Linked DNA regions of Homo sapiens: region 1 is linked to region 2. The links come from fine-mapping of genetic effects on gene expression. A gene starts in region 2. The other region holds a variant in brackets. All regions are shown on one strand. Distances are from middle to middle. Region 1 holds the start of LOC105377291 (a long non-coding RNA gene). Region 2 holds the start of SEPTIN11 (septin 11).

Region 1 (12,562 bases), 75 kb before region 2:
ATGATTTAAAACTCTCTCAGTATGTCATTGTAGCAGTCCATTTTTATTTTTACTGCAGGCAACATGAGATTCCTTAGGGGTGAGCCTACTGCACATTCACCAAGACTAAGTGGACAATAGCACTGTGCTCACTTTTCCCTATAACACATCTCAATTATTGTGCAGAGACTTGATCCTATGTACTCTATGTTTAAAGAATGTAATTCTTTATGTGCTTGAGCATCAATGTTTTTACATATGGTCAGCTTTTTCCCTAGAACCTTGGCATGTAAGGCGAAAGAGCAACACTTCCTGAAACAAGTTCTGAGTTGCTTTATATTAAATAGCTGCCCTAAAGCACCGTACATTAGACAAAGGAGGGTGGCATCTGCATATTTGTCATTGAGACACCACAAAGGTTTTCGTTAGTGGTATTCTTACCATCGTGCTTCCTGTCAAAACCGATAGCATTGACATAAAACTAGGCTTTATGATGATTCAAAGGAGAGCTTCAAATCACAGGAGAATGTCAAGGGAGGCCTAAATCTCCCACTGGTTTCAGGCAGCTGCTACTGGAGTATCACAGGAAGTGACCAACTCAAGAGCAGAATCTGACCCTTTGGCACATGACATTAAGACCCTATTTAAAAAAAACCTTTTATGAATGGGTTTAGGTTTGGCTTGAGGTTGGCAGAGGTGTCAACTGGATAGGCATTTGGATCCCATTTCACAATAAAACAATTCATCATATTGAATTTTGAGGAAACTAGTGGCCACTAGCAGCTCTTCCAAATGTTTCATTTTGGGAACGAGAATTTCAGTGACTGGCTTACGAAGTCTTACAACACAGAATAGGAAAATAATTTTAACAATTGTGATTTTAGGATGCTCTCTATCAAGAGTCATGAGAATTGTCTTCAGAGGGTGCTGAAGAGACATCAACCTGTCTTCTTTGAGACTCCTAGTGTTGGTGTGGAAGATGCTACTGGAGACAACAGGTTCCTCCAGGCCTGATTGCTTGGTCAATTGTGGTAAAGTTTTATAAATTAATCTTTGTGTACCTTTTAAAAAAATTTAAAAACCTTCATCATCTTCCCTGCACTGTAGAGAAAATACTTGCTTTTATCTTTCTGGTAAAGGACCAGTTTCCAGTCTGTAAATGGGAAAAGTAGAGACATGCAAGAGGAATAAATTGTTAGAGGTCCCCGATACAGGGGGGTGACACCTGCTTACTTTTTCTTATCCTTGTCTTTCTTGGTTTGCTGGGCCCCAGATTGCTGGGCCTGGGACTGTAGTAACTGAGCCGCTGCTTTCTTCTTCTGGAAGTTGTTCACCTCCTCCTCAAGCTCCTTCTTCTTGTCTTCCACTTTCTTCTTTTCTTCTTGGTGTGTCCGCTTTAGAAGGTCAAACTTCTCGTGAAGCTGGAGAGAAAAAGAAAACAGGCTTGGTGAATGGAATGAAAATCCTTTTGATGTAAAGTTCTTTGGATCTGTTCAAAAAACAAAACATGGCCAGGCACGGTGGCTCACGCCTGTAATTTCAGCACTTTGGGAGGCCGAGGTGGGTGGATCACGAGGTCAGGAGTTCAAGACCAGCCTGGCCAAGATGGTGAAACCCCATCTCTACTAAAAATACAAAAATTAGCCAGGCGTGGTGGCGGGTGCCTGTAATCCCTGCTACTCAAGAGGCTGAGGCAGAGAATTGCTTGAACCTGGGAGGCGGAGGTTGCAGTGAGCTGAGATCGTACCACTGCACTCCAGCCTGGGTGACAGAGACTCCGTCTCAAAAGAAAATAAAAGAAAACAAACAAATATGTGTCATGTGGCTGCACTGGCTTTAATACAGGTGTAAAGTACCATTTTGCTGACTTCCTGGAGGAGCTGAGCTGGGATGCTGAAGAGCATCCCTCAGAGTCCCAGACTCCTGTGACACTAGAACTCCTTGGGACTAAAAATTCCTTCGCTCTGTTGCCCAGGCTGGAGAGTAGTGACACAATCTCAGCTCACTGCAACCTCTGTCTCCTGGGTTCAAGCAATTCTCCTGCTTCAGCCTCTCGAGTAGCTGGGATTATGGGCATGCGCCACCACACCCAGCTAATTTTTGTATCTTTAGTAGAGACGGGGTTTCACCATTTGCCCAGGCTGGTCTCGAACTCCTGACCTCGTGATCCTCCCACCTTGGCATCCCAAGGTGCTGGGATTACAGGCGTGAACCACTGCACCTGGCCAAAAATAATTATGATCCCAACAAAAAACTCACCCTAGTGGTAAAAGTGGTTCTTTACCTCTGGTCCTTTTTCGAAATGTATAAAAAACATTTACTTAGAAATATATACAATGACTACATATATGTATGTGTTTGTATATATATACACATATATATGTGTATGTATATATGTGTGTATATGTGTGTGTATATATATGTGTGTGTGTGTGTATATATATATATATGCATTATGTATTAGCTACTTAAATAATGTGTTGGGAAATTTCTGGCCCTTGAGGGAAGGAAGGGGAAGAAGAAAAGCAAAGGAAGAAGAAAGAAAATGAAAAAGAAAAGGAAAGGAAGGAATTCTAGACAATTTTAGATTTTTTACCCAGCATCCCCTTGGTTCTTGAAGCCAACAGCAAATAAGGCTCAACTTTCTCTGCAGCAAAACCATCTTGAGTGCTTAGCTATTTAAATAGCCTCTAAATTTCAGTAGTTTTTAGACAAAATAAATTAAAACAAGAAAACGAGGAAATTTATTTAAATGATTTCACTTAGAAACATATAGAGACATTGGTCAAACACTTCAGATACTCATTATTGACCAGCAGAAATAGACATTATGCACACAAGCACACATACACACACACACACACACACTCAAATACAATGGGATGAATGTTATAGTATAAATCTATGTTAACTTCTAGGAAGCAGTTAATCTGGCCAGGGGAGGGGACTAAGGTAAGGCTGAAGCAGGGAGTGCAAGCCCCGTGAGGGCAGAAGCACGGGCGCAGATGTGGAGTGCAGGCTTTGTGTCAGATCGTTGTCCCCCAGACACTGCCAAAGTCTAGCTGAGTTGGCTGATAGACTAAGAAGATAATAATAGTCGCAGAATCCCAAATCTCATGTTTTAAGACTTGTAAATTGAAGAAACACAGAGCTACACAGGCCATGTGATCAGATCTGGAGACCTAAGATCTAGTTTTAGTCTCGGTTTTGCTGCTAACTAGGTATGTGACTGCAAAAATAGTTTTAACTTTTATAACCTGTTTATCATCTGTAAGACAGGGATGAGAATATCTGACCCATTTTCCTGGCCAGGTTGGCAGGTCACTCGTGACAAAATGCATGTAGAAAGTACTTGGACCATCATGAAGTCCTCTAAAGCGTGATGTATTTAGAAAATCTCTCTCTTACAAATCTTTCCCTTGAAGCAGGACAGATGGCTTACCTCTTTCTCTGCCTCCTTAAGTTCAGCTTCTTTCTCCTTCACTCTCATAACAAACATTTGTCTCATTTCTTCTTCTTTCTTCTGCAGTTCTCCCAGGAATTCATTCCTTTTTGCTTCATATGTCTCCTGAAGACTATTGAAAATCCACAAACGAAGGACAGCATCATGAAATTGTATACTAAGAAATTTCAGTTCACATAATTTCTACCTATCTACTTTCAAAACATAGATAAAGCTGCTGCTTGCCAGATCAAAGCATAAGTAGAATGACACTGTTTTGCTTTTAGTTATGCTGTGGTTGGAAAGACAAGTGCATCAAGAACTAGAAATCAGTCAGTAAGCACAACACAGCACTAAAGGTGTGTCTGTGACTAGCCAAGTTTTATCTTACATATATTCATACAAGGAAAACCTGGGCTGAGGAGGTGGAGGTGGTATAGAATTTGAGAAGATGGAGAAGGCCTGCTATAGGGGGAGAAATGAAGAGGGACTGGAGTCCCACAGATCCGGATTGGAATTTGGGCCATACTAAGTAACCGGCTGTTCTTAGAAAAGCACAGCCTCCCTCAGCCTCCAAGGTCTAAGACGTGGATACAGTGACACTTACCTTCTAGGGATATGACCCTGAGAATGAAATGAGGGGAAGGGAATAAAACATCGAACATATAGTCAGTGCCCAGTAAATGGTACCCTCCCCTCTCATCTCCCTCCAGCCCCCAATGTGGAAAATAGACCCAGCAAGTAAACTAAAGAGACAACATTACCTTTAAAGGTACTGTAGAAAATTGCTACTTTTCAAGTATATTACCAGTTGTAAACAGAGCAGGGAGAAGTTTAATTTTTATTTTCAATTCTATCCTCCTCCTGACTGTCTTGGAAGTTAGAGCCCAATATTCTACATTGAATGCTACAGCTCAGCTTTATCTCTAAGTCAAAACAAATATATTTACAGAGAAATCACTTTGGTAACACAGCTTAAGAAAATACACCCCCACTGCAACCCCCACATACACACAGAAACATTTGCTGATATTTTATAAAGTGCTATTTCTCTCTTTGTCTTGTAGTTTCCCTACAACAATTGTTGTATATTAACCATCTGCAGTATATCTGCCTTTCCCATGGACTAAATTCATCCAAAGTGTAGACTACAAACTGGATAGCCACTCTGCACGATCCCTGGCACCATGCAGACCACCACATATCATTTACATCTGTCCATTTACATGAAGAAAAAGGAAATTCAGGTGATAGGAGCATACGTGCATGTAGATACACACATCTATAATGAACCACACAACCAGTTTAGTATTAGAAAATGTATTAGGCCAAGCATGGTGGTTCACACCTGTAATCCCAGCACTTTGGGAGGCCGAGGCAGGAGGATCACCTGAGGTCAAGAGTTCGAGACCAGCCTGGCCAATATGGTGAAACTCCATCTCTACTAAAAATACAAAAATTAGCTGGATGTGGTGATGAGCACCTGTAATCCCAGCTACTTGGGAGGCTGGGGCAGGAGGATCACTTGAACCCAGGAATTGGAGGTTGCAGTGAGCTGAGACCATGCCATTGCACTCCAGCCTGGGCAACAGAGCAAGACTCCATCTCGAAAAAAGAAAACATATTAATCAGGCTGGTTTATACTTCAATAATTAACACGGTTATTAGTTTATTAAAAGTAAGTTCTCTTGCCCTTGCCACTATCAATAGTACCTGTTTATGAACAATCAAGTGTTTTGAGTTTCCAGAGGTACATTTCGCTTTCACATTATCTTATAAGATAAAAACATGCTTGGCCAATGTTAGTGTTGGCTAATATTAATAGCAATAGTTGGACTTCAAGTTTAAGATCTATAGCAATGGAGATATAGAGAAGTGTACTCATAACAGAACTATAAAATAATTCATGAAATTTTGCATATTAGCTTATAATAAACTCTTGATCACTATTATTTAGGTCAGAATTGCCAAAGGTAGAGGATGACTCGTCCCTCTTATGAAATTTTACAGAAAACTCAGTTTTTGTTGATTTTAGAATAATGAATATATCTCCCTCTTCTTTCTAACAAACAATGGAAACTTTGATAGAAACACCACCGAAAGTGTATTCCAGAGACCACCAATTTCAAGAAAGGATCTCCAAAAGAGGGGCTCCAACGTCAAAAGACGGAAGGGAGAATGGTGCCCCTGATATCCTTTTAGCAGATTCACAGTGCATGGTGGATCTCAACCTTGGCCATACAGCAGGGGCACTAGGCACATTTTGTTGCATACACTTCCCTAAATACAGAGTCCGAAGTTCAGTCCTGGAGAGGCTGATTCAGGATGTCTGGTAAGGCAAAATGGTCTAGTTTTAAATGCTTCCCAGGTCATTTGATGCAACTAGTTTGCTAGTTTTAAATGCTTCCCATGTGATTTGATATAACTAGTTTGCTAACTACTGCTTGTCTTAAATGCTCTGAGTAGCCCTTCAGTAAAAGAATCTATTCAACTTGATTGTCTTAGAATCCTCCAAATTTGTCTGATCATGGAAAATTTAGGCAGTTCACTGATAGAATGTGCTCTGGGTAATGCTACCCTAAATGCTGAGAACTCACTAAATGACTCTGCCTTATCCAGTCCCAACCACAAGCCATCTTATGAAACTATGAATCACAACTCAGTTGTGGGTCTTAACCAGTACGTTAAAAAGTTTAAGAGTAGGCATTACTACACAAAATGTGTATGCTGGATCATGATGGAAAATGCTTTTTATAGTGAAACCTGCAGTCCAAAATTGGAAAGCCTAGTCCCAGAGAAAGCCTAAGGAGCAACTTTGCCATTGGCAAGATTAGCTTCAGACATGAGTCTGGAAGCAGTTTTGACACCCTGGGCCAGAGCAGGCAAATGGGCTCAACAAATGCTACTTCTTATATCATTGTGTCTTAGGATGTGAGCCAGCTTTTGAACTCTGACATTGGAAACAATGATCAGGAACATAAGACAGAAGCCATAAAACCTTACCCCAAGGAATCATAACTGTAATTAGTTACTTACAAATAACTTAGAACCATAGCATCCACAGAATCAGATTCCCAGCCCCTCTGCCAGTTGAGTTGTCCACTAGAGATACCACAAGCCCTCACTAATATTTCCAGTCATTGAAGACCAGTTCAGAAGGAACTGGCTCATATTCAGTAAAGATATCCAAAGTGATTTTACATCTTTTTTTTTTTTTGAGACAGGTTCCTACTGTCTCACCCAGGCTGGAGTGCAGGAGCAGGATCATAGCTCACCATACGCTCGAACTCCTGGGCTCAAGCGATCTTCCCACTTCAGCTTTTCGAGTAGTTGGGACCAAACACAAGCATGTGCCACCATGCCCAGCTAATTTTTTTTAAAATTTTTTGTTGAGATGAAGTCTCCCTATGTTGCCCAGGCTGGTCTTAAATTCCTGAGCTCAGGTGATCCTCCTACCTCAGCCTCCCGGAGTGCTGGGATTTCAGGTGTGAGCCACTGCATGCATCCCTTTAGTGGTATCTTTTGCAACTTTTAGTTCTTCAAACTTAATTTTTAATTACAGTTATTAATACCCTTTTCTAAGTGAGAAATGTGTACCTTTTTCACAAGATTTTAGATTGATTTGAAATTGAGGATTTTATCTTATAATTTCCTCTTAACAGCCCTTGGGAGAGGCAGGTTTTGCTTGTTGAAGTCAAAGGAAGAGAGAACGAACACAGACACTTCAGTTCATCCTTCATTCTGGTGATTCACACAGCACGATTCTCTCTCTGTTCTTATCTAAAAGCATCTAGTGGAGGGCAGGCCAGAGTATGATCATCTCCACCAGCTTTTGTGGAGTGGAGCAATACACATGTGAATTCATTTAATCCTTACAACAACCCAATAAGGTAGCCATTACTATCACCTCCCACTTTATAGATGGGGAAACTTGGACACACAGGTAATTTGACCAGGTCACACCACAAAGAAGTAACAGAGCCAGGACTGAGACCAGGCTGCCTTGCTCAGATAAGAACTCCATCTCCTGCACTGCATGGCTGGTGTACAGAGGCCCAGGCACTCCTAAAAACAAGTGAGTCTCTGGGGCCTGGACCTCGTTGGCCTCTGAGAAAATGGTGGTAACTGAGTGCTTCGTGTGAGTTGAACGGGGGTGAAGCAAGGAGACGGTGGTGTTCTGAGGTGAGATGGGAGCAGCTTGGGCAGGTACTGTTAGGAAAAGCGCTGTGGCCTCTCAGGAGAAAGGAAGCAGGGAGTGGCTCATGGGAGACACGTGACGTCTCCTCTTCTACCCTATAATGCCAGCCAGAAAGGGGCTGGGGTCTGGAGGAAGGAGACGCCTGGGTCCAGGGAAGCATGGGTGCTCTGGGTGGTAGACGCATGAGTTTCAAGGCTTCAGGGCAGCAGCCGGGCATGCACAGGGGGCGGATAAAGATGGGCTTGGGAAAGAGCAGATGAATGTCTGGTTATATACATATTCTGCCACAAGACAATAAAGACGCAAGTGTGAATGCAGGCGGGTTTAAAGGCACCCCAGGGACGGGCTCCGCTAGCTTTACTGCCGTGGTGTGCTGCCAAGGCTTGAATACGGCGTTTCTGTGCGCGCGCTACTCCTCCTTTTGCCTCACACTGTGTAACATACACAGTGGCACTGCCTCTTACTAGACTTGGTGTTAGAGGTCACTCTCTGTTTTACAAACATGTACTGTAAACACAAGTGGGGCCCAGAGGACAAAAGGTGAA[C/T]GAGGGTGCTCACTGGGAAGGATGAACTTCACTGCACACCCATGCAGAAATCCTGTGCTTTGAGAATATAATAAAACCTTAAGCCCTTGATTTATACTCCTCCAAGCTCAGCCTAAATTCACACGGAAGATCCATCTTCCAAGCACATCCAGGAATGGTGACTTTGCAGATGAAATTCTGGAAAATCACTTCAATCAACTGTGGCTTCTGCTTTTCCTTAACTCTGTCATCCTTCAAACAGAGTCACCTCACTCCATTCCTCCCGCTCAGGTGCACAGGAAGTGCTGAGGGTGCCCGAAATTCTTCAAAGGGAAAGGCCGAGCCCTTTTAAAAGTAGTGGTTTCCAAGAAAAGGAAAATCAAATTCATTTCTTATCACTATTTACCAAGACATGTGATTCAAAGCCAACTTTTGGTACCAAGTAATCTTCCCTAAACCAGGAGGGACATCAGAGTTTGAATGAGTGGTCTAAGAGGAGAAATTGTTTCCAGTTGAAATGGAAAACCTGGTTCCAGTTATCGAGATGTTGGAAGGTATTTATTTTTAGAAGGTCCACTTTTTTCTAATTTTCTTATATATGGAAAAAAGTAAAGGCCTTGGTAATATATATGTGTGTGTATATATATTATATGTGTATATATTATATATTATTATATAATTATATCATATATTAGTAATATATGATATAATTAATATATATTATTTTATATATATATTGTGTGTGTGTGTGTGTGTGTGTGTGTGTGTGTATACATTTTCCCTTTTCATCATCAAAAGCAAAACTCAGGCCAGGGGAAATGGATCCAAGTGGGGAGGGGAGACATGGATAAAGCATGCTCTCTAAGCGTCAGGCAGCCTCGGTGATATCCCTCACCAATCCTGAAGCCCCTGAAACAGGGAGAACAAAGCAGTGGGCTTGCCCAGCAGCTGTCCCTTGCAGAAGCCCTGCTGGGCCTACCCAGCTCCACCTCCTCCTGGTGGGCAGTTACTCTGGGCTTGCAGGAAATGCCTTAATTAAAATGCTGGCCACACAGACAACTTAGCAGGCTGTGCGTCTGCAGCAGCAGGAAATCCTCACAATCCCCAGGCTCCCAGGGATCCTAAGGAACCCAGTCAAGATGGTGGAAAGACCTAAGTGGCAAACTTAGGCCACTGGGCCCTTCCTGGTGGTGTAGATAGCTAAGGATAGCATCATAGACTCTTCAAATTCCACAGATTCCTGAGTTGAAAGAAACACAACTATGCCAAATGGCTCTGAACATTTTGAGAAGTAAAACACTTTGGGAGGTAAATGACCTCTAACAAACTCAAGAAGCAGTCACATGCATTCTAACTTTTGCAGGCAGTTCACAGGCTCCAAGTTATGATCTCGTCTAGGGGTTGGGAAACTACAGCCTGAGGACCAAATCTGGCCCCCCATCTGTTTTTGTAAATGAAGTTTTACCGGAACACAGCCATGCCCATTCATTTACAGTATGGTCTATGGCTGCTTTCGGACGACAAGGGCAGAACTGAATAGTTGTGACAGAGACCGTTTGGCCTGCAGAACCTAAAATATTTACTGTCTAACCCAGTATGGAAAAAAATTTTTTTTTACTGGATCTAATTATTCCCTGATCTGGATCAGCTCCTCATTTCACAGATGAAGAAACTCAGGCCCAGATGGGTTAAGAACTTGTAGCGTAGCAGGACCAAGAACTGAACCCAAACTCCTGACTCCTAGCCCAGTGCTCTTCAACACTGTCTGGATTTGAATGAAGGTGAGGGGAAAATGAATTCAATTTTATGGCAGTTCCTTTTGTTCCATATCTCTTTGCATGAAAACAAATATTTTATGTAATACTGAAGACGGCCTTTCCCACACAGAAACCATTTCATCAGGTTTAGTAACCATAAAGTGGACTTGATTTTGTAAGGATTATTTTCTGGTAAATGCATTTCAAGGTTCAATTAGCTAAACCTGTGTACACAAAAAGGTGTCCTACACCTCGCCTCAGAACATGACTTTCACATGGTTGGAGATGGTCAGTTTTGCAAGCCGTCAGGGCAGAAGTGAATGATGCAATCTTGGCTAGAAGTTAACTTCTTGGTATGCCCCTTGTCTGGGTTCTGCATTTGTTCTCACTGCATACACACATGCTCATGGAACTCCTCAGCAGCACAGTGCCAGGCGACAAGCCCAGGCATTCCTAAACTATCTCTAAAGCAATTGCAAGAAAATAAACTCCCTCCTACAGACCCACGGGGACAGAATCTGCTGTGCACAGGCTGCCTCCGGTTCTATTGTCAGCCAGCTTGTAGACATCAGAGTGTGTTGTAGGCCAAAGAGGAGAAAGACAGGTTTTTTTTCCCCAAGGAACTATGGCCCTCAGTTTGTAAAGGCACAGAGCCCAGACACACCTCACACCACCTGAATTCAAATCCCCATTAAGAAACAGCTTGGGGGCCAGGCGCGGTGGCTCACGCCTGTAATCCCAGCACTTTGGGAGGCCGAGGCACTCCAGCCTGGTGACAGAGCAAGGCTCCGTCTCAAACAAAAAAAAAGAAAGAAAACTGCTTGGGCACCATCTGGACAATCCTCTCCTCGACCAGGAGGTGGTGAACCTGGCCTGGCAGCCTCACCCCACAACTTTACCCAGAACCACCCCATGACTCACTACGGTGTGGGCAACAGCACCCCAGCCTTGCCAGCCCTATCCCTACCACTGGATTCTGACGGGGTCTGGGCTTCGGCTAGGATATTAATTCTACATCCATTTCTCCCCTTCACATTTTGCGTCTCCACCCGTCAGTGATATAAGAAAATACATAGATCTCCTAAAAGCTATTCTCCTTTCCTCCTGATTCTTTGTTGTTAGAATTTTACCGAACCACTGAAAGCTAATAGTAAAAGTGCTTGACAAAGGAAGAGCCTCCGGAAGTTAAAGGTGTTTGGCAAAAATGAATGGGGCAAACTGTAATCAGCAGCCGCACCTTTGTAAATATATCGACCAGGCTCTGCACCTCTGCAAGAGAACTGGCAGAAACCTGGGCTCAGGACCCAGATGGCAAGAGCTCAACACCACACCATTGTTTACTACTTGGAGGACCTTGGGCAGTTTGTTTACACTTTCAGTGCCTTTGTTTCCTCATCTGTAAAATGTGGATAATAATGACATCAACTAGGTAAGTTAGTTGAGATAATGCAAATAAAGCAATTATCACAATGCCTGACAACATATGTATTAATCTTCACCCACCAGATCCTTCCATCATCACCATCTCAATCCAGCAAGCATTTCTGTGATGTACCACCATGCCACTCTCGCCACTGTCTGGGAGACACCTGATTGCTAGATGCCTTCATACCTGAAGGGTTTGCTGTCAGGGTCAGTGTCCTTGAACCCCATCTCTTCAAGCTTACAGCGTCGGTACAATTCATAGTGGCGGGTGTGAGTCTGCTCTCGCAAGTCCTCCATGTTCACGCGGATCAGCATCTCTCGAAGTTTCACAAAATCGCAATGATTTTCATTCTCAACTACAAGAGAGGGGGGAAATGGCGGAAGTGGGATTAGCAATGATGTCACTGAAATATCTGCAGTGATGCTTCCAAGATGTTATTACCATCACTCCTGAAATCTCTGGGGTCTCAAGACCATCTGAAGATCCTTTACTGGATTCACCTTACATTCCTGACGAAGACAAGATTTCTGACAACATTGACCATAATACTGATGACAACGCTGACTGCTGAGTGCCTACTCAGCACAGAGCACAGAGGGAGGAGCTTGAAAACAAATATTGTCTTTACCCTTCATAATAACTCTGCCAACTAGATGTCATGACTCTTGCTTTGCAGACGCAGGAGCTTGGTGAGCAAGCTGACCTCCCAAAGAGAGGTAGCAGGGTCTAGATTCAAATGCCAGAACATCTGGCCCAAAGCCAGATGTATTTGTACCACTCCATGCTGTCTATAACTGTGCAGGGCCACTTTTACATACCACTTCATTTAATTTTATCAACAACACTAGGAAGAAAGGAGTTTTCTTATTGTAGAGAAATTAGTAAGAGTAAGAAAAATTGTATTTTTCCCAGGGATCTCAAAGGTACTGTTTCTTCTCACAGCTTTATTGCCTTTATTCAAAACAGAGGAAAAGGAGGTCTGATACATCTTAAACCAGCGAAGAACTTTCTTTAGCCATCCTGCTTAATCCATAGCACTGGATGTCCTCCTTCAGAACATAAGAGTAGGTCATAGAGTCCTTGTCATTCAAAGTGACACACGTGACAAGCTTTCAGGTTAGACTGTGGCCATGTCCCACAGTGCCAAATATAGATCAAATATTCTCCTAAGTCTCAGATTTACTAAGATAACATTTTATTAGAAGACATTTTTTGCATAGTTGATGGAGAAAAAAG
Region 2 (16,365 bases):
GGTTTGAGACAAACCTGAGCAACATAGCAAGACTCTGTATCCATTAAAAATAATAATTATTATTATTTTTAAAAAAAAAAAAAAACCTTGTCTTGTCCAAGCTCAGTCCAGTGCTTTGGATCCGTTTCCATCGGTCGTTACAGTTGCTCATCAGACCCCAGCAGCCAAGAATGGTAAAACGATCAAGAGCAAGGTTGCTTTTCAGGAAGCCTTGGACACCGCAGGCAATAAACTTGTAGTTGACTTCTCAGCCACATGGTGTGGGCCTTGCAAAATGATCAAGTCTTTCTTTCATTCCCTCTCTGAAAAGTATTCCAACATGGTATTCCTTGAAGTAGATGTGGATGACTGTCAGGATGTTGCTTTAGAGTATGAAGTCAAATGCATGCCAACATTCCAGTTTTTTAAGAAGGGACAAAAGGTGGGTGAATTTTCTGGGGCCAATAAGGAAAAGCTTGAAGCCACCATAATGAATTAGTCTAATCATGTTTTCTGAAAATATAACCAGCCATTGACTATTTAAAACTTATTTTTTTTTAATTTACAAAAAACATAAAGTATGAAGATTATAAACCTAATTGCCATCTGGGTGACAATAAAACATTAATTCTAACAACAACAACAACAAAAACCGCGTCTTACAAATAGTAGTGAAAACCTGGTAAAAAGTCAGTTTGTTCTGAGTATTTTTTAAAACATCCAAAGTAGCTTAGTATATTACAAAATTAACATTCATACTCCCTTATTTGTATAAGGAAAAGACGAGCCCCACACTAGTAAACAAGGCGTTTTCATCTAGGTTTCCCCAAAATGCAAGGACTTGAGACAGGGACTTGCATGCATGTGAGTCCTGGGAAGTGACCCAGGGGAACAGAATGGGGGACAGGGAAAAGTGAAACAGGGGAAGAGGGAAGGCCACCCTAAGGGGACTGTAGAGTAATCACCCCTGAGGGCTGAGGCTGGGGCCCAGAGGGGAACTTCTAAGGAGCCAGGTCAATTGAGGAGCCATGTAGATCCACCATCTCAAGGGGGTTGCCCCCTGGGATGGCAACTCCTTTGGATGTCCAGAAGTGCACAAAGGTCAGAATAGCTAAGCAGAACCCAGGTGGCGATGGCAGAGAAGCCTGGGGCAGAAAGTGGACTTGCGAGGTCTACACCTACCGGGGGTTGACACAGCAACAGCCAGGTAGGCACACGTCTTAGACAATACGTCTTATCCAATTTATCTGAAGGGTGAATTTTCACTTATTGAGTCAAATGTTTATTGGTGGGGGGTATAGGACATATAGTCCTTTCCCTTAAGTCTGGCTATCTAGACTAAGAATGCAAGAATGTGGTCAAGGGCTAGTGGAACATATTGCTTATGGTAGGTAATAAGGTTTTTTTGTTTTGTGTTTTTATGTTCACAATTATATTTGACAGTCACTTTTTTTAAAAAAGGTAACTTAAGGAAAGGTGGGGTGGGGACTCCAGAGCACTATGTGGATGACACATAAGTGTTGCCAGCAATTCAAATAAATAAAAATCGCCAAAATTTTGGTGATTCATGGGTGGAGGCTTCATGGAGGGTATGCTTGATCCGTGCCTCTAAGGTGTGCTATGATTAGAAAATGGGAAGCCTGTGTGGTTCAGGTGTGCAAGAGAAGGGGCAATTGCTCAGTTCCCACTGGGGTGGGGTGGAGTGGAGTGGCAGTTCTGGTTTGAGCCCAGTCTTCAGTATAAAGCCATTACTATTTCAGCACCATTTTCCTCAGATAACCAACTTTTATTGAGGATGAATGTTCCAGGCAGCAGTGTAAGCACTGTGTGTGTACTAACTGGCTTAATCTGTAACTCTTTGAGGGAAGTACTGTTAGTGTTTTACAGATGAGGGAAGTAACTTGCCTAAGGACACAAAGCTTGTTAAATGGTAAAACCGATACTCTAGAACCGGAGCAACCTGGCTCCAGAGCCCACATTTTTCACCCAAACGCTATACACTATGGCCTCTCAGTAGAGAGAAAAACAGAGCAAGGGAAAGAAGGGTGCCATCTGATTCATCTGCATTTAGGGACATATGGCTGGGAAAGGTCCAAAGGGCCGAGGTCCCAAGGGAAATCATTCTGTCAAGCAGCTGGAAGTCCTAATGGCCTCAGAACCATTTCCCAGAGAGTACACTTCCACAGCTGAGGTCATCAGAGAGCAGCACAGAAGGCCTTTCAGAAGGTTACCACCCATGACTTACTTGATGGTGATGTCCCTGGAAGCTCATCACCAGTGAGTAGGAGAATTCACTCTGACTTCAATTCATTGTGGCTGCCTAACTCTTATCTCTCTCTGTCTCTGTCTCTGTCTCTCTCTCTCTCACACACACACACACACACACACACACACACATCATTCTACTATGCCCAGCTAGAATCAGAGCAGGCCAAATAGAGGGAGAAAAATCCTTACAGACAGGGATACAATTTTAAAAATAAAGACTTGGCTTCATAGTAGATTCCTTGACTAGGAATCTAGCCAACTGTTATTCAAAATATTCACTGCCCTCCCTAGAGGGGGATTTACTTCCCCAGCCCAAGGGTCTTTCAGAGCCACTCTTTACAGGAGGATTCTCTATCCTCATTCTTTTGAATTTAGGAATGACCATTTACTTTGGCCAATACAATCTGCATGGAAGTGACCCATCTAAGAGCTTGAGAAGCCAGCTCTTGAGAAGCCAGGGTTCAGCATGTCTCTTTGTCCTCTGCCACCAGGCTGGCAATGCCCAGATAGAGGATACTCCCTCAGCCTGGGTCCTGGAGGCAATGCAGTATGCAGCAGACCTCCGAGGGTGGAACAGCTGCATGAGAAATAAACCCTTGCTATGTAAGCCACCAAAACATGGGGCCAATTTGTTACCGCAACATAATTTAGCTTAACTGACTGAATCAGATGGGAGGTCTGTATGCATGTTGGTCTAAAAGCCTTTGGTTCCAAAGCCTAGCTCTCCCACAAATTTGCTGTAGCAGATTAACTGACAACTTCTTCCTGTCTCATTTTCCTTCTCTATATTACTTCTCAGGTATTTTGTGAGTATAAGGTGAGATAATTGTCTTGACAGTAATTTGAATTGAATAAATTTGAAAATCAAGATGCTGAACAAGCTTCCCGTGCACAGAAGTTTTTGGTCAAGCCTTTTGCCCTCCAACAGCAGGTCAGAGTAAGTTTAATGAGTACCTTAATGAGATTCACAAAATTTATACTGGTATGAAGACAGTACTCAAAGAGATGAGATAACTAAAACAGCATGAAGTCTTAAGTAAACCCTGGCTTTTAACAGACTCTTCTCCTGTTTTCATAAAATCCAATGAGTTTTTAATTTCCTTTTTGGAGAACACTGATTGCCACTTGAAGTCCAAGGTGGAAAGAGTCCTACCATCTTCCCCCCCAGCCCCACCACACTCTTCAGGACTCAGTTGCTTAGGTCTAAGAAAATAATAACTTCTAGTTCTGAATCCTGAGGAAAGGCTCAATGCATAAAACTGGGCAGAGGAAGATCTAGCATTGTCGTTGTCATATGTTGTCACTGGACTCTCCTTCTCTGTGTCCTCTGTCAGTCTTCATTTCCTCTATTCTTTAAGGGTTCAATTTGGGCATGAAAGGAATCAACTCCCCTGATCGTTTCTCAACTCTCCTATTGAATCCTGAAGAATTAGTAGTCTGCAGATTTTCTTTGTCTTCCTTCAACCAATTTCAAGGATCTGAGATATCTTAAGTTATGGGCAAAGGGTGGATGGAATATAAAGCATTTAAAGAGCTACACAGTAAATACATGCCTATAAAGAATGCACTGCACAACTGAGTCTCTTCCCACCTCCTCAGCCTCTTGTCTGTCCACTCTCCCTACCCAACCCTAAGGCTGACGTTCCTGCTACATTGGATTTCTTAAGAGTCTCTCCCTCACTTCCAGAGCTTGGCACATGCTGTTTCCTGGGCTTGGAACACTTCCACAACCACCTCCCCATCTCCCTTTCCTTGCTAAATCCTATTGCTTACTCAGCCTATAGAGAGATTTCATGAGAGCAGCAAAGACTGCAGTCAAGTACTCACCAACATAATTTCAGCACCTGCATATAGAAGGTACACAAGAAATGTCTGATAAAACAGGTGGGTTGGAAAGGCAAGAATGAGTACTGATGTGTTAGGGTGTTGAGGATTATTTTGTTTTTCAATCTCTAACCTATCCACATTATTGTGCCTCAACTTCTATAAGAGAAAAAAAATCAATTCTTCCCAAAGGAATGTTATTATCAAAAACAAGTAGGTAAATTTTAATGTTATGCTATATATATTTTCATTTCCTTTTTGTACAATAAAAATGCAAAAAAAAATAAATAAATAAATAAAAAAGAAATCACACACAGACAAGAACAAACAAAGCTCCCACTTGTCAGAAAAATGGTCCTTTTAGAATATGGTCTCTTTCCCACCTCACCACCTCAGCCTACCCCTCTCTCAATGTTTCACACTCCATCCTACCCAGTCACAGTTCAGCAGGTGGGCAGAATGTGTCCACAGAACTGGACTTCCTGTGCCATTTGGCTTGAGCGATGTGCTCACACTCATTGGCGTCGATCCTAAAAAGAGGTGGCTCTGGTGCCTTGGCTTTGTCATATCAGGGAACAGACTCCTGATTTCTATCTCAGGTCAAGCCTGGAACAATGTGAATTTCATTTTAGATCGCCCAGCAAATTCCTTTTAGAAGTCTGTCTCTATTACCTTAGCCCAAGTATTGTTTTTATGTTCAACAGCTGCTGCATTGATGGGCTGCCAGCAGGCATGAGTGGGTCAGGGGAAGTATTGTTATTTGAGAGTTTTCTGTCAATCCAGATTTTTAAAAAGGGGGCGGGGGAGGTTATCAATTATATTGTAAAGTAGATCTCCTTGGAAAAAAGTATAGAAGCTTTAGATGTGTTGGGTTTCATTTAAATAATGGTTCAGCTTTGCTAACCCCATTTGAGACAGGTCTAGCTAAGACTATGAAAGATGGATCCCAATAAAATGATAAAATCCAAGAGCAGCGTCTATCCCCAACCAAATTTAGAGTCCTATAAAGAGAAACACAGGCACAGAAAACTCTGTGGGCTGCGCCACAGTCTAAATCCGATGATCATGATCAGTGTGACATCATCATTGGGTAGAATATAAACACTTGGTCTGCTGGCAATCAATCAAGTAGGCCATCCAAATCAAGGAAACAGCAGAGTCCCACAATCATTTGTTCCTTTTGCAGACATAGGATGGCCCATGCCCAAACACTAAGCATCCACTTCCTTCATTTTAAGAGTATTATTCAAATGGTCACACAGGACTCATTCAGGCACACAGTTTGGTTTCTAGGTGGCAGTTTATACAAGATGGGTTATGTCTGCTCAAAAAAGTGGTGAAATAGACTAAACACCTAAGAACTATTATATCAGGATAGTGGGTTATGGGCAGTTTTGTTCTTTTAATCAATTCCTTGGGTCTCCTTTTCACTGTAATGTAGACACATCATTTTTAAAGATGATAATTTAAAAGATAAATTAATCTATAACTTTCGAAAGATTTTAAAAGGAGAGATTATTGTACCTCAGAAACTTCTTGCATTCCTTAATAACTGCTTATAGAGCCTCAGTATGTATAATTTATATCACTGACTAAAAAGTTCTAATTTTTGAAAACTGACCTGAGATGACAGTCCCTTTATTGTTTAGGTGGCCCTCCCCTGGACCTTTCTTGGCTCCATTCATGTTTCTCCAGGCACACCGACCACAGCCATCCATCTGGGGCCACATTTTCAAGTCACAAAAATGGCAATTTTATAACAAGGGAAAGTAACATTTTATTGGCAGTACTCCTCCACTTCCCACACTCCCTGCCCTCATCTTTAAGAATTGCCTATAATTATCCCCAGACAGATATGATCCTTCACCTGAATCATATTTGCTGAGTCAGCAATAGGCATATAATTCCTTTTCTCCCTAAATGATTTACACATTTACACTGAAGTCTGTCACTTTAATACACCAAATCTCTCAAACAATAAAGCTCCTGGTAAGAAGAAAACTTGTCCACTGCTATATCCCCAACACCTAGAACAAGTTCCTGACACATAGCAGGTGCTTAATAAATGGTGTTAAATGAGCAAATGGAAACTTGGTTTTCCATTTCCTTCAGCTCAACAGATAAAACAGCAATTAAGTGCATTTCTTGAAGGATATCATAGGGAAATCTCCACCACCAGTGAAGTTTAAACACATATTTTTTGTTAGGGATAAAGTAAGAAATATTTCTGCACTGGGGAGCAGGCTAACCCAAATGACCTCTAACGTTCCTTTCAACTCCTAGAGTTTTTAAACTGATGAACACCACAGCTTAGGAGAGGCCATCAGCTACATAAAGCCTGATTCCCAAGTAGAGTAAATTGCCATGTTCTGTTTAAAATAAAGATAATAGCTGCCCCGGGATTTGGACGCAAAAATGCTAATTCATCCAAAATGCAGACACATCCCTTGGGAGTAAAATGTTCTTGCTAATCATCAGTTATACTAGGCAAACAGCAGATGTGCTTCAGGGTCTTCTTAGGGCTAAGCCCAAAAACCATCAGTGGGGAAATGGAGAAGCTAGGGATCAAAATTAAAACTGAAATAAACAGTATCACACTAAATTGAAGCTTTGTTTTGCAGTCAACAACAAATCCACTTAAGAAACTTACCTGAATTTAGCCTTGAGGTTTGAATGGTTTGTAACAGAATATAACCATTTCATAAGATAGAAAATAGTGCATTTGACATGTAAGCATTTTTGCCCACTAAAATGTCATATTTACCTGGGATATCACACTCAGATGTTCCCATTCAAGAATATCAAAAATTTAGGGTAAGTTATTCAGATTGCATTTTTCTTCAGTCTGGCGGGGAGAGGTAGTTATCGCAAAAGGAGATATATGTCCTAAATAACTTTTTAAAAAATCTAATTAAATACCTAGGGAAATTCCATTCACACATAAATCAACTTCGGAGTGGTTCTTTTCCCTCAGCGCACCCTTCCTTTCTTTTGGTGAAATCACAGACTAGATAAGAAATGGGAGGGCCAGAGAACTCTTAACTTTAAAGGTGCAGTGTAGATTCCATGGAGCTGTGTCTCAAGAGTCTTCCCCATTCATTGACTTTGTTTTAAAGCCATAACTGCAGAGACCACACTTAAGACAATAGCCCAATGAACAAAGTGAAAGGATTCAACAATTATCTGTGAAATGTGATCACATATTTTCTGTAGACTTTCTAACTTTATAGTCAATTCCTAATCACTCGTACATTAGGTTTCCAAAAGAAAAGTCTTCTGTCTTTAGATTGTAATTTAATTTTAATTCCAGTGACAACAGAGTGCGCAGAAAGAAGTCACTTCCTCTGTGCACGTATACTTAAAAAAAATCTCCTCTATTATCTGAAGAGGGAGGTCTAACATAAGAATTCTGTGGGATTAAGCTCACATATGGTTGGCCGACTTGGTGTTGGATGTGATTACGGCCACACAACTAAACCTTAAATCCACATACTGTTCCTATTTAACTGACATATATGAACTAATTTATAGAAAATGTGCAGCTAATTATTTCTTCCACCTCCTCCATCCCTCAAGAATGCACCAGCAATAATACGTGTTACTGAAAAAGCCAAACACCCCCACTGAATATTTGCAATCCTAAACGTTTGCCAATTTATCTAAAGCAGATATTGTTATTTTAGTTCTCTGAATCTATGCCTGCTAATAAGTATAATGGGGGGCAGGGGGAGGAGTAATTTAACCAGATAAATTTCACCTCTATAGACCTCAATTTTCTCACCAAAAATAAAACGACTAGCCCAGAGACTATGCAAATTCCCTCAGTAACAATAACCTACATGTGACCACTAATTATCAAGAGCACAATTTATGTGCAAAAGAAGACCAGAATTCTTAAAAGAGCCATGTCATTAAATCGTAGAGTTGAAAAGGCCTAAAAGACAGTCATGATTCGATATGACCGCTGTGTTTTCTGACTGCAGAAAACGTCTTTGAAAGCACCGCGGGCAGCCGAACCACCAAATCGAATTAGAATCCGCAAAGGGACCCATGAACTTCTCCCGAGGGGGTAGGGTGCAAAAGGCGCGCGTATCTGGGGAGGAGTTAGGCGGGGAGAGGGGGAAGAGCCGGGAGCCTGAGAGCACAGCCTTGCATTTCTGGGATTTCCGAGCTTCCAGTATCTCAGTAAGTCTTTCGTCTGTAACTACAAAATCTCCCGAGCCACCACCTGCAGCTGCACAGCTGTGGGAAAGGGAAGAAGAAAAAGGGAAGAGGAGGTGATAGACAGGGAAAGACATCGCCCGAGGCGCCCCCAAAGCCAGTAAGGCGAGTGGACTGTGAACATCGACGATGAAAAGGGGAAAGGGAAAACAGGAGGACTCCGCCTTTCCCACCCAGCTCCGCTCCTTTCAAAAAAAAGGAAAGGCCGCCGCCGCCCCTTCCTCCGCCTTTCACTTGGGGATGCGGAGCGGCCACTGAACCGCACCCTCGGAGTCCCGCTCCCCTCCGGCCCGGCCCCGGGGCGCGGACCGAGTCTTGCAACCCAGTAGGCGCGGCGCCTTGGCCCACACACTCGGGGCAAAGGTATCTCCTCCCTCCTACTCTCCTCCCTCCCGCCGTGGGGCACTCGATTCTTCACGCACCCGCCCGCCCTTCCTCTTCCTCGCGTCCCAGCCTCCTCAGCCCGCCGCCCCCGGCCTTTCAGCCGCAGAACATTTCAGTCCTTCCACCCACACCACAAGGGAGCCTCCAGAAAACTTTGTGTGTGTTATCTGGGGCTTTGTCCACATCCTGGGCAGGGCCCGCTCAGCCGGGTGGATGCCCGAGGGTGTCCGGGATCTCACAATGCGCTGGGGAGGCCACCACGGAAATCCCACCCCTCTGACCTGCTTCTACAGCAGTGCCACACGCAGCACTTCAGCTCGCAATTCCCATGCCCTGAGCGCCCCCTCGGCGCGGGGGAGACTGGAGGAAAGCCCCGAACCCGGCGCCCTTCTGGCTGTCACGAGGGAAGAGGTGCGCGGGCAGAGGGAGGCGGCTGAGACACGCCGCGCCTCAAAGAATTATTTTAAAGGGAACAGGAGAGGGGTCCTTTTTCTTTCGCATTCCCAGAAGAGGGGCGCGACGAGGCGATCCACTGTTGCATCACGTAACTGAGCCCCTGGGCTCCTAACCCCGACCCCAGACGCGCGCCCAAATTCGTGCACACACCCACAGCCGTCGCCGCCGCCGCGGGGCCGAGCACCCGCCCGGCTCCCCTGTGGTCCTCACCGCACCCGCCCCAGAGCAGAGACCACCCGGCGCCCGAGGAGCAGCAGGCGAGGCCCCAGCACTCACAGACGGTCTCCCCACGGCCACGGCCATCGCAGCTGCGGCACCGGCTCCGGCTGCGCCCGGGTGCTTTACGCCGACTCCGGCTGCTGCTAGTGCTCGGGCTCCGGCTCGCCTCCCTCGCGCCTCCCTCGCGGCTGCGCTCTGCTCGCCGGCGTCCCGCTGGCAGCCAGCGGCATCTGCTCCCCCCACGCCGCCGCCCCTCCCGCTTTATTAGAGCAACATGGCCACCCGCCTGGAAGGGACCATTCGCTTCCCCAGGAAGGGGTGTGAGCCTGCGCGCCCGGCCGCGGTGGTGGGCGGGAGGATGGTGGGCGGGCTCCGAGCCCAGCTCCACTGGCCCCGGCCGCGGGGCTCGCCCCTCCGTCCCCAAACGACCGTCTCCGCTGCCATGAGATGCCGACAGCCTGTGCGCTGGCCGCCACCCCCTGCTCCATCAGGTGCTGGAATCTGAGTAAAAGCCTGGGCGCGAGCTCCCAGCCCCGGGGCCTGCCACCGGCTCCACGAAGCGGGCAGCTCCAGCGGCCGCCGGGAGAAGGAAGGGCGACCGGGGGAGACGGGTCGCAGGGACAGCACGTGGCGGAAAGTTAGCCCCGGACTAGCACGCCCCACCCGGAGAAGCCGGCCTGGAAGGGGCTGCGGACCACCAGGCGGAGCGGTGGGCGACCGAAGTGCGGCTGGGCTGGCCTCCTCGTCTCCGCACTGGAAGAATTGCCCTTCCGCAAGTCTTCCCTTCCCACATGGGGGCCCTCCAGGCCGCACCTCGGTCGCCCACCGCTTCCCTTGAGAAGGGAGACTAAAGACAGGCATCTGGAAGCTGTCACTGTGGCGCGCGGGCAGACAGGGGATCCCATTGGAGAGGAAGAGCCGTAGTAGTCGCTGCTGCCTTCGGCCGACCCAACGGCCGCCTGCTTGGGAGGAAGAAAAAGAACGCCCCCGCTGAAGAATTAAGGCAGCCATTGGTTGCTCTAGGGGTAAGGACCGAGGCCTCCCCTGGGTGTCACTGGAGCAGCCACACGTGGGGGATCAGCCGACTTCATTCGATCGCTGGCGACAGACCCGGCGACCCGTAGGAATGCGCGCTGGGGCTGCGGCTGGAGGGCGTGGCGACGGCAACAGGCGGGTGGCTCGAGTGGGTGCGACTCTGGGCGCGTGGGACTGAGAACTCCTCCGCCGTGGGGAAGATTTTTTTCCCAGCAGATGTTGGGGTGTTACTGCGTGTCTGAGGGGCCGGCGGAATGGAGGGGTCCCGGTGCGTGCAGGGCAGCGAGGTGTGTCAGATGAGCTGTGGATCCCTGCGGCCCCACGTGGGCCGGAGAGGGGGGCCCACGACAACAAGCGATTGAGGACAGCGATGGACAGGGCGGGGAACCAGCTGGGTGGAAGCACAGGGAGTGTGGTGAGGAGGGAAGGGCTGTGATCTGCCCTCGGTACGACGCCCCAAGGGACAGCCTGGCCTCCTGAATTAGGGAAAAGACAACCGGTCTCTTTAGACGGGCGCCTCAGAGTCTGACCTGAGTCTTCAAACGCCCAGATCCCCTGGGGCCTTGAGTCTCCCTGTCCCGCTGGCCCTGCCTCGCCTGCGCTTCAGGACTCCGACGCCCCCGCAGCCTTGGGCTAAGGGTCAGTCGTCCCCGGGCGCGGGTCCGGCTGCCCTGGAACTGATGCTGGATTTCGCTGGTAGGTGGGCTAGGGGCTTGGTCACCCCGTCTGAATTCCACTGTCAGGACAGCTGTGGAACCGCCAGAGAAAAGTCTGGCCATGAAAGAAAGGTGAGGGGCGCCGACGCAGAGCTTATTTATTCAGTCTGTGGGCGGACTCAGACGTGCAGAGCACCAACCTCTTCAATTTCTGCCCTCTAGACTCCAAATCTTTTGAAATTAGGGACCACCATTTTATGCCAAACATACAGTAGGCGCTCAATAAGTGTTGAATTAAGATTACACATAAATGGGCCGGGCGCGGTGGCTCACGCCTGTAATCCCAGCACCTTGGGAGGCTGAGGTGGGCCAACATGGTGAAACCTTGGCTCTAAAAAAATGCAAAAATTAGCCAGGCATGGTGGCGCTTGCCTGTAGTCCCAGCTACTATAGAGGCTGAGGTGGGAGAGTCGCTTGAACTCTGGAGGCGGAGGTTGCAGTGAGCCGAGATCGCGCCACTACACTCCAGTCTGGGTGACGCAGTGAGACCCTGTCTCAAAAAATATATAATAATAAGATTACACACAGATGGGTGCTGTGCAAAGGGAGGGGGAAGACAAATACTTTCTTCTGCAGCTCTGGTACATGGACATTTTGTCCTTTCTCCATAAGGAGGATCAGACAGCAGCAGCACTGCCCATGGACCAGAGGCCTCATGTAAGGCCTGGGAAAAGAGGGCTCCACACACCACCAACCGGATGTAAGGGCAGTTGCAAAGGAACTGTGTTATCTTGACCAGAACAGACTGTAGAATTTGTTTATCAAATTTTTTTTTTTTACTTATTTATTTTGTGAATGTATATGCTGTAAACTCATCTGCTTAGATTGTAAGAATGTGAATGCCCTACCTTGGTGGGTAGGTTAGTTTATTCTAATCAGCAAAACTTAACGTTACATATTCCAACATCTCATTTGGGATGTGAAGATGCTATGGGGAGGGTGGGTATCCTGGCATTGCTAGAATGTTGGAGCCTTAGCGAGAGAGTGGCAGAGTGGGGAGAACCTGGCACTTCAGCTACAGATGATCACTTATGAGCTTTGTTATATCAAATAAGTTAAACTTTCATCTCATTTTTTTTTTTTCTATTGTAAAATAGGGTAGTAACAGTGAGTCCTGGGGGAGGACGTGTTCTGTTAGCCAGATCCACTCTCCAACCTGCTGTCTGTCCTTTGGAGCCTTAACTCAAGAGACTTTCTTTCCCTCTAGCTTCCAGTTGAGTGAAGGCACTAGGAAGCAACAGCGATGGAACAAAGAGGAAGGAGTATGGTTATTTATTCCCCCCTGGCTCCCTTACTATGGCACCATTGCAGGCTGGTTGCCTCCCTCAACCAAAGGAAGCAGCCAGTATCCCTCCCTAGGGTGACCCAGAGTAAACCCCTATGGTTTCCCTTCATTTTGCACATACCTTTGCAGATAGTCTTTTTATAAAACTCTACTCACATTATCCAGTAGGAATGAACATCTCATTCCTTCACAGAATTGTTTTGAGAGTTAACTGAGAAAATACTGTATTATTATTATTAGAATGACCTATAATTTCTGTCCAAACTGAGAAACTTTTGAGGCTGGGAAAAGGGGGTTTGTGCTGATAGTAATGATGTCAGGACAATAGGAAAAACAAGGACTTATGGCCACCCCAGCTATTATTGCCAGTAAACTCTGCTTTAGACATATTAAGCAATCAAGAAGTGGTCGTACTATCACGCTTCTGTCACTAGACTATGAATGTCTCAAGGTAAGAGTGCTTTTTTGTCTATTAGCTTCTGTCACATGGTCTGGTATATTCAATAAATTTTGAGTTGGAGATGAGGGTAAAGACTAGGAAATGAATAATTTTTATTGCCATACTAAGGTAATGAAGAGTCAAGGAGGTCTTTAAGCAAAGAAAATTTGCATTTTAGAAAACAGCTATAGTGAATATTTGGCATTGTTAGTAATTTAGGGTCTATTCCCTTTTTAATTGAACCCCAATTTATTTGGAGAGCTTTTCCAATGAATGTTTCAACTTGGTAAAAAGTAAATGCCTCTTAAAAAAGAGGTTCTGGGCCAGGCGTACTGGTTCATGCCTTGTAATCCCAGCACTTTGGGAGGCCAAGGCGGGCAGATCACCTGAGGTCAAGAGTTCGAGACCAGCCTGGCCAACATGGCGAAACCCCACCTCTACTAAAAATACAAAAATTAGTGGGATGTGCTGGTGCATGCCTGTAATCCCAACTACTCGGGAGGCTGAGGCAGGAGAATAGCTTGAACTCACAAGGTGGAGGTTGCAGTGAGCCGAGATCGCACCAGTACACTTCAGCCTGGCTGACACAGCCAGACTCCATCTCAAAACAAAACCAAAAAAAGAGGTTCCTCGCTGGCTGTGGTAGCATGGTGTAGTCCCAGCTACTCAAGAGGCTGAGGCAGGAAGATCACTTAAAGCCAGGAGTTTAAGGCTGTAGTGCGTTATGATTGAGCCTGTGAACAGCCACCGTACTCCAACCTGGGCAACATAGCAAGATCTCACGTCCAAAAAAATTAATTTAATTTATTTTCAATAAGAGGCTCCTGAAGAGACGTTCCATCACACCCTTCCTTTCATCACCACAGTACATACATTCTTAAGAAAGTATGTGATCTAAGCTTGGCCAATTAGATGCTGTTACATTTGAATTTTGAATCAAGAGACACAAAGACAATACAAATTGTTACAGTTTATGCAGGCCATAAATTATTTTTTACTTTTTGGCAAATTGTTACAGTTTATGGGGTCTACAATTTATTTTTTTATTTTCTGGCTTAAGTTATCTAGGATTTGTTTCTGTGGTTTACAGTCAAAGAACCCAAAGACCAGATCACTCTTGACTACCATAAAAATGATTAATTATAAAGGGATACAAGAAAAACAGGAGGCTGGGCACAGTGTCTCATGGCTGTAATCCCAGCACTTTGGGAGGCCAAGGTGGGTGGATCACTTGAGGTCAGAAGTTCGAGACCAGCCTGGCCAACATGGTGAAACCCCATCTCTACTAAAAATACAAAAGTTAGCCGGGCGTGATGGTGGGCGCCTGTAATCCCAGCTACTTGGGAGGCTGAAGCTTGAGAATCACTTGAACCGGGGAGGCAGAGGTTACAGTGAGCCGAGATCGCACCGCTGCACTCCAGCCTGGGCAATAGAGCAAGACTGAGTCACAGAACAACAACAACAACAACAAACAAAAGCACACACACAAAACAGGTGATAAGTTAGCTATTGCCACTTTAATTTTGGATGGTTTAACTGACTGTCCTGAACTGACTGATCCTGAACTCCTTCTGCAACACAATATGTAAAAATGTTCATTAAAACATTGTAAAATGCATCTACATTTGAGAGGAAAAAGTAAAACTCTCTATTCACAGATAACACAAATATACAGAAAATCCTAAGGAATCCACTAAAAAATCATTAGAAGTAATAAATGAACTCAGCAAGTTTACAAGATACAGGATCCACTGAGATTCTGATAAACATGGAAGGCAAAAACATTGAAACCGTCATTTATAAACTCACATAGGCTCCAGTGATTATCTCTTCTTTTCTTTGTTAAAAAAATGCATTTAAAAATCATTCTAGAAAATTGTTAGGCAATGTTAAATTTACCAATAACTCTGACTCTTCTTTGCCCCTACCACTTTTTATTATCTTTGAAAATCAAGACAATATTTGCCCTTCTTCAATCTTTTATCATTTCTTATTTTTCTCTGGCTTCTGGAAAGTGAGTAATTACCTTTACGATCACTTATGAAATCTCTTGCATGGATAATTCATTTAGGCCTAGAAACTCATTTAAAGCAATCGATTGCTTGCTTACCATGCTGGATTTTAGTAGCCTTTAAATCATGTTTATTCTACCTTTTTTCATTAAAACATTAGTCTCTTTGGGAGAGGAGACAAATAAATTAAAACTTGAGTTTTACCTTTTCTTTGTCATCTGATAGCATTATGTCATCAGCACGAAGCAGTAGCTTCCATCCTTTCTTGTTCACCCTCTTGTGGCAAGTATTACTTGAAAAACAAAAAAATAAATTTAAAAAAAGTCTTTGTATTCTTTTTAAAGGCAAAAATTATCTAAGCCTGCAGGGACATTTCCATTCTTATAGGCTATGGTACTCTTTAAAGCACGCTGTTTAAAAAATCTGATTGCAATAAGTATGTCCTGTGAAGTGACATGCTCCTTAGAGTAAGATGACTTGGCTTGCTGGCCACTCTGTTTGGCAGCCAGCCCTGGAGCTGGGTCAGTTTCCCCTGGCTCTGGCATCACTCCTTCTCAGATAATTCCTTTCTCCCTGTGGCCAGTCATTGTGGTGACAGTTATTATTCTTTTTCATGAGCCTAGAAAATTTATGTGGTGGATGTCCCTCTGAATACTAGATACTGCCACTGAATTAGAAGAGAATCATATGCACTTGTATATTCTGACAGCCATGTCACTTACACCTTCTCACCTTTTGTCTCGTCCTATTTGCTATCTACCATTCTACCACTGTCCATTTCTACCAGCTGAATAACTCTCTGATGCAGGGGTTACTCTGCACCCTCATCTCCCTTACTGTAGACTTGTTCCTTTTGAATGAGATAAAATTTCCTTGACTTATAATATTTCAGTCATAATTTCCTTGCTACCTCATGTACCGATACCTATTGGATTATGTTCATTTTGTTAATTTTCCCAAGTTCAATTTGCTTTACCACTAATTCTCTCTTTCCAGGCTGAGATTTCAAAAGTCATCAGCATTATATTTCACCTTACTTCTGTCTGTTTTATTGAGTCCCATCTGAATCAGCAGAAGTGGCTGTAGGTTGGCTGGTATCATGAATTTTGGCAGATTATGCTTCATGAGTCATCATTCCACACTTTAGGAAGATAACGAACTAGCCGTTGCAAGACTGCCTTCCTACTCATCAGCAGAGAAAACATGGACTTGGAAGCCAGGACACTTGCGTTCGTGTTCCTACACTGTCAAACATCATGAGCTATGCAAAATTTTTAAGTTGATGTATTTGGATATAGGCGAAGCTGCTGTAATGGGAATATCCCAAGAGTCATTGGTTAAAGAAAAATAGATGGTTTTTTGTTTGTTTGTTTTTGAGACAGTCTTGCTCTGTCACCCAGGCTGGAGTGCAGTGGTGCGATCTCAGCTCATTGTAAACTCCACCTCCTGGGTTCAAGTGATTCTCCTGCCCCGGTCTCCCAAATAGCTGGGACTACAGGTGCAAGCCACCATGCACGGCTAATTTTT

The links. PIP is the estimated chance that this variant, and not a neighbour inherited with it, causes the effect.
Region 1: its variant is fine-mapped to the expression of SEPTIN11 in whole blood (TOPMed, PIP 0.92).

What each region holds. Positions count from the first base shown.
Region 1 is chr4:77,019,621-77,032,182 of GRCh38, reverse strand. SEPTIN11 (septin 11) reads right to left here. Exons shown (of 10, transcript NM_018243.4): 7 at 11,513-11,681; 8 at 3,422-3,554; 9 at 1,213-1,400. It overlaps LOC105377291 (a long non-coding RNA gene), which reads left to right and starts at 8,858. Exons shown (of 2, transcript XR_001741734.2): 1 at 8,858-9,924; 2 at 11,407-12,562. RefSeq lists enhancers at 6,102-6,181, 8,689-9,308. The variant C/T (reference allele first, on the strand shown) is at 8,165.
Region 2 is chr4:76,942,974-76,959,338 of GRCh38, reverse strand. SEPTIN11 (septin 11) reads right to left here and starts at 9,587. Exons shown (of 10, transcript NM_018243.4): 1 at 9,409-9,587. The coding sequence starts at 9,435. It overlaps LOC105377294 (a long non-coding RNA gene), which reads left to right and starts at 9,774. Exons shown (of 3, transcript XR_001741739.2): 1 at 9,774-10,376. It also overlaps the pseudogene TXNP6. RefSeq lists silencers at 9,293-9,602, 9,633-9,812 and an enhancer at 10,723-10,802.